Linked DNA regions of Homo sapiens. The protein of the gene in region 2 purifies or fractionates together with the protein of the main gene of each other region. This does not show direct contact. Each region holds a gene or a part of one and is shown on either strand. Other genes may lie near its edges.

Region 1 (3,500 bases), on a different chromosome or scaffold from region 2:
GCACATACTATACCCAAAGCCTGGAATATCTTTTCCTATCTTCTCTACCTAGAAACCACTGGTCTTCTTTTAAAAATCCAGTTAATGTTCCTTCCTCTGTTAATCTTCCTTGGTTCACACTCCTCTCTCTCCCTTCCTTCATCCCCAATAAAGGCAGAGTTTGGCATTTCTTCCACTTCTCCTCTATGGCACATAATTTTCTACCAAATTATGACTGCTTACATGTCTGCTTTCTTTTTTCTTTTTTGAGATGGAGTTTTGCTTTTGTTGCCCAGGCTGGAGTGAAGTGGCGCAATCTCAGCTCACTGCAACCTCCGACCCCCGGGTTCAACCAATTCTCTTGCCTCTCCCAAGTAGCTGGGATTATAGGCACCTGCCACCATGCCCGGCTAATTTTTGTATTTTTAATAGAGATGGGGTTTTGCCATGTTGGCCAGGCTGGTCTCAAACTGCTGACCTCAGGTGATCCACCAGCCTTGGCCTCCCAAAGTGCTAGGATTACAGGCGTGAGCCACTGCGCCTGGCCACGTCTGTTTTCTTGACTAAACCATATGTTCCTTATTGACAGTGTACTTCATCTCATGTTTGCATCCCCATATCCTAACACATTGTCAGCACTCAACAAATACTTCTTTAATGAATGAATGCTTCTAGAAGTGTGATGATACATTAAGCTTTGTCTCTATAAAATGGGATCTTGGGATATGTTTCAAAGTGCCTAAAGCCATTCCAGAATGGTGACTCTTGGCTGGAGGAAAAGAAAGTAAAGGCATACATAAAGGAGATTCCCCATAGCAGACCTAATTCATCTAGCATCCAGAGGAACCCACGTTAGTGATAAGACTACATGACAAAGACTTCTACGCAAATTATAACATCATTTATAATTGCAAAAAAAAAAGTTTAAAAACTAGAAATAACAAATATGCAACTTAGAATGATTAACTAAATGAAGGCTCATTCAACGGATCCTTTAAAAATAGTACTTTTGACTGGGTGTGGTGGCTCACCCTGTAATTCCAGCACTTTGGGAGGCCAAGGTGGGCAGATCACGAGGTCAGGAGATTGAGACCATCCTAGTCAACCTGGTGAAACCCCGTCTCTACTAGAAATACAAAAATTAGCTGAGTGTGGTGGCACATGCCTGTAATCCCAGCTACTCAGGAGGCTGAGGCAGGAGAATCACCTGAACCAGGGAGTCAGGAGGTTGCAGTAAGCTGAGATTGCGCCACCGCACTCCAGCCTGGCGACACTGCAAGACTCCGTCTCAAAAAAAAAAGTACTTTTGTATGATTACACCACTGCACTCTAGCCTGGGCAAAAGAGCAAGACCCTGTCATCCAAAAAAAAAAAAAAATGTACTTTTGTAGAATATTTAACGACTAGGGAAAATGCTGGTCATTTCAATCAAACAGAAAAAAGACCTGTATCATATTCCCAATCATAAATTAAATATAAAAGCCATTTTGGAAATACTGATTTAAAAACATTTAGGAAATAAGCCTGAAATAAACTGTATTAAATTATTAGCAGTACCTATCTCTGAGTAATTTTCTACAACTAATTTGTTCAACAAATATTTATTGAGCATTTGTTTGTTACATTACAAAGATGTGCAAGAGACATCTGTTTCTGTCCCCTGGGAACTAAACATGTTATTCTTCTATAATCAATCAGATAAAGCAATAAAGCTTAGAAAAAAATTCATAGGATTGCCCAGTCTAAATTTATATTCTATGAAAGGTAAAATAATAATAATAATAATAATAAATAAATAAATAAAAATAAAAATAAAAAGCCAGATTGCCAGAACTTCTCTGAAATCTAGGCTGGAAGCAATTTTGATACAAATATTTGGATAAGGGCTGCCCAAATGGCTTGTACTACTGATTATGAACTGTATCATGATGCTGTAGTTGTTATAGATCCTTGTGGTCAGAGGTAGTTGAGAATCTAAATCTCCAGATTTATCCTTCCTGCTGGCAGATCTACATTTTTACAGTAATTACAAATAAAAGCTGCTCAGTTGACATTTAATCCTTCATCCACCATCCACCAAATTCCTTTTCTCTTCTGTGTTTCTTTTCCCTCTACCATTTCCTGCTCTTGCCCTCAATGATTCACTCCATTTATCTAAAAGAATCTTTATGTTCCTCCTCTTCTTTCAACCAAAGAACAGCCAATATAAGATTGAACTCTCCCTCTTGGGGATTCTCAGGAAAGATGGAAGCTTCAGAGGGGATCTGTGGTATTGATGAACATAAAAGTAAATTACGAAGAATCTCAAAGCCAGAGTCCTTTAAAGCTTCTGCTTCAAAAGATACCTAAGGTGTAAAAAAAAAAAAAAAAAAAAAGGCAGGGAAAAATCCAGGCTTGGTGGCTCACACCTATTAATCCCAGCCCTTTGGGAGACTGAGGCAGAAGCATCACATGGGGTCAAGAATTTGAGACTAGCTTGGGCAACACAGGAAGACCCTGTCTTTACATTAAAAAAAAAAAAAATTAGCCAGGCATGTTGCCACACACACTTGTAGTCCCAGCTACTGAGGAGGCTGAGGAGAGAGAATCCCTTAAGCCCAGGAGTTCAAGGCTGCAGTGAGCTGATCGTGCCACTGGACTCCAGCCTAAAGCACAAGACCATCTCTCAAAAACACAGGGGGATATTATCTGAGTAGAACAGTGGCTAATTTACCTTCATTATTCTTTACTGCAGGTATTTCACTAGTTTATATCCTACATTGAAAATACTTCTAAAACGTCCTAGGATGTTCAGCTCATCAGAAACACAGTGATAAATAGCAAAATTACTCTAATTGCCCAGAGCTTAAAAAATTCAGCACTACAGTTTCAGGTTATGTGTTTTTAGGCATACTAAGGAGTAAATTTAAACTGACAAAATTCTATAGGACTTAGATCACTGATAGTGGATATACTATAAAATAGTTTTTCAGAAATATTTCCCCAGAGAACTCAAATAGATGAAATTTGTAATAAAAATACACACGCAGGGTATCATTAGACAGCATCACAGGGCCGGATGTGGTGGCTCATGCCTGTAATTTCAATACTTTGGGAGGCCGAGGCAGGCAGATCATTTAAGCTCAGGAGTTCGAGACCAGACTGGGAAACATGGCAAGACCTCCTCTCTACTAAAAAAAAATACAAAAATTAGCCAGACATGGTGGCACACACCTGTAGTGCCAGCTACTTGGGGGGCTGAGGTGGGAGGATCACTTCAGCCCGGGAGGTTGAGGCTTCAATGAACCAAGATCACACCACTGCCCTCTAGCCTGGGGGACAGAGCGACATCCTGTATCCAAACAAACAGACAAACAGAAGGCATTACAGGAATACATAGAGTATTAAATGCTAACTTAGTGCTATGATGTCAAAAGCATGTGCTCAGAGAACTAAGTGACAGAGTCTGATATTCATTCATTCATTCATTCATCAAATTTTTAGGAAGTACTTACTCTGTGGCAGGCATAATCAGAGACAGA
Region 2 (3,018 bases):
TGCAGAGAGCTCCCTCATCCCTTCTGTCATGTAAAGACACAGTAAAAAAGATGGCTGTCTATGAACCAGGAAGTCAGCCCCACGGAATCTGCTGACAATTTGACCTTGGATTTTACCATCTCCAGAACTGTGAGAAATCAATTTTCTACGCTACCTAGTCTATGGCATTCTGTTTTGACACCCAGATTAGCTAAAGTAGCAGCATATCAACTTGCACACATAATTCTTGGAAACTCTGATGCCAAATCCTTGATGGCAAAAGGTGATTGATCTGCCGGAGACATGAGCCTACATCATCCCTCTTTCCACAATAAACCAGAGAGTCAAAACAGTCAAGAGTAGGTCAAGGTCTTCTAAAAGCCATACCTGAAAGGTTTCCAATAACAGATGACTCGATGGTAATTCAGCCACACAAACAACCACAACAAAAGACACAACTATCAGAGATTTTCAGGATAGCCTCAAAAACACCATCTAACATTAGGGAGTTCAAAAAGGCATGAAGTTTCAGAAATCAAACTTTATTGTAATCTCGTTTCATCAACTTGTAATTCTAACACTATTAATAAATGGTAGGGCAGGTGGTGGCATGGAGAGCCTGGGGCACAACGGCTGTCGTTAAAAGCTTTGTTTGCTTTACCCTTTGGAGCCACCTCCTGGTCCCCTCACCCACTGCCCGCCTGTTAAGGGCCTGTCCCGGGCAGCACATTAGGGGCAAACAGCCTGGATGCCCAGCTGTGGACCCGCATCCATGCCTGGAGGAGGAGGTTGCCTCTGGGAGCAGGCGTAGCTGCTGGAACTCTTCTTCCCAGCCTTCTTTTAATGCTCTCCGGCACCTCCTGCACACAGATAAACCAGGATCAGGAGAATAAACGGACCTGCAGCAGCAGGACTGTGGTTCTAGTGAATGAGAGAAGCCTCTCTCCAGCGAGGTACAGGAGGCCAGGCCAAATGCCCTGCTCTCTGCCTGCATGTTTGCCACCGTGCCCAGGACTAGGGGCAGCATGGGAGCTGCTGGCTGGGGCTGTGCTGGTCACCCCCTCCCTCCCACTTCTCTCTCCAGCCACGCTTTCAGTTCCAGGGTTAGGGCTAGTGGCTACAGTACGTGCCGTGATTTCAGGCAGCTCCTCGTTGGTCTGGTCCTTGGCTGGAGCTCCCTCCAGCTCCAGTGCTCTCTCTGGAGGGGCCTCTTCCCATGCTGGCTCTGGCTCCGCCGCTGGTGCTGGCAGTGCTCTTACTTCTGCACATGGACCAGGAGCTGAGAAAGGAGAAAGGGTCACCAGCCTCAGTCACTTTCCACTGGAATTTCCAAACACAGAAACGACCTCACTGAATTTAAGGGAATTCCAGCCCAAAATCACCGCCCCCGCAAAGTCTTCCAGGCTGCAGGCCACCTCACCAAGTGTCTGTGCCTCAATGAGCTCCTGAATCTCCTGGACAAGGACAGTGTGCAGCTGCAGCCCCAATGGGATCTCTGGTGTGGCCTGGCCTGCTAGGGCCTGCCCCAGGCTGTCCTGTGGTACCTGGATGCGCCTTATTACAACGGGCGACAGGCGTCTGGGGTGAGGGATGAGCCTTCTTCGGCATCGTCGGAAAAGGCTCTCACTCCCTCCATTCCTGAAGCAGCAACCTCTCGAAGTGGGGAAGCAACACGAGAACATCTTGCTCTCTTGAGCGACTCCCACCAAGTGAGCTGTTTACGGCGCTGACTCTAGGATATGGGTGCCTGGTTACCAGAGTTCTAAGTTCTGTTCGTGTGGTCATCATCCAGGAAGTGAGGTCGCTTCTTTACGGTTCTGTCCCCTAGTCCCCTTCCTTCCATAAGACCTACTCAGGACTCCACTGGGCTGCTGACTACTCACCCTCCCCTCAGGTCATCTCCTGACCCGTACACAGTTATGTCCACCCAGGGTCTGCTTGGACACCTGTGCCTGATGTTCACCAGGGGCCAGATGTCGTCCTCAGGCCTGATGTCCACCTGGGGCCTGATGTCTGCCTTGGCCTATGTCCCTCTTGGGGCCTTGTGTTCACCTGGGGACTGTATCCAGCTGGGGCCTGATGGCCTACTGGGTCTTGTTGTTCACCTAAGGCCTTGTGTCCACCTGGGGACTGGTGATCACCTGGGGCCTGGGTGTCCACCTGAGGCCAGAGGTGCACCTAAGGCCTGAGTTTTCACCTGGGCCTGATGATCACCTGGGGACTTGGGTCTAATGTCTACCTGGAGCCTTGGGTCTAATGTCCACCCGGAGCCTACGTATCTACCTAAGGCATGATGTCTACCTGCGGCCTGATGTCCTCATGAGTCTGGTGTTCAACATGGGCCTGCTGTCCACCTAGGGCCTTGGTGTCCATCTGGGGCCTGGTTGTCAACTTGGGGCCTGGTATACACTTTGAGTCCAGGGTCCACCTGGGGACTGACGTCTGCCTGGAGGACTGACGTCCTCCTGAGTGAGGTGGGAGGATCTCTGGAGCTCAAGAGGTTGAGACCACAGTGAGCTGTGATTGTGCCACTGCCCTCCAGTCTGGGTGACAGAGTGAGACCCTGTCTCAAACAAATAAACAAAAAAGCCACACAAATTATATAGCTATACAAAAATATTTTGTTTCTTTTTAACCTTATTCTATGAGCTTTTTTCATTATTTATTTATTTTACTTTTAAACCGTTTGTTGTTAAAAAACAAGACACAACCAGACACTTTCGCCTAAGGCTAAGCAGGGTCAGGATCATCAATTTCACTGTCCTCTACCTCCACATCTTGTCCCACCGGAAGGTCTTCAGGGGCAGTAACAGGCATGGAGCTGTCATCTCCTTGATAAGAATGCCTTCTTCTGGAAACCTCCTGAAGAAACTGCCTGAGGCTGCTTCACAGTTACCTTAAAAAAAAGTAGTAAGCATATACTCTAAAATAACAATAAAAAATATAGGATATTAAATACATAAAACAATAACATCAGCATCTATTATTTTCATCAAGCATTATGCACTGTTGATAATCGTATGTTCACACCCACATCAC

Evidence for each region. The genes of interacting proteins can lie anywhere in the genome.
Region 1: the proteins of CDRT15 (region 2) and MAP4K5 purify together in Homo sapiens (affinity purification with mass spectrometry; 3 studies listed by BioGRID and IntAct, with this or other methods). This does not show direct contact.

What each region holds. Positions count from the first base shown.
Region 1 is NC_000014.9:50,526,070-50,529,569, forward strand, and holds part of MAP4K5 (mitogen-activated protein kinase kinase kinase kinase 5), read right to left. Parts: intron 1-3,500. UniProt on the Homo sapiens protein: May play a role in the response to environmental stress. Appears to act upstream of the JUN N-terminal pathway.
Region 2 is NC_000017.11:14,235,173-14,238,190, forward strand, and holds CDRT15 (CMT1A duplicated region transcript 15 protein), read right to left. Parts: upstream 1,691-3,018; 5' UTR 1,662-1,690; coding exon 1,400-1,661; intron 1,259-1,399; coding exon 1,110-1,258; intron 840-1,109; coding exon 684-839; 3' UTR 501-683; downstream 1-500.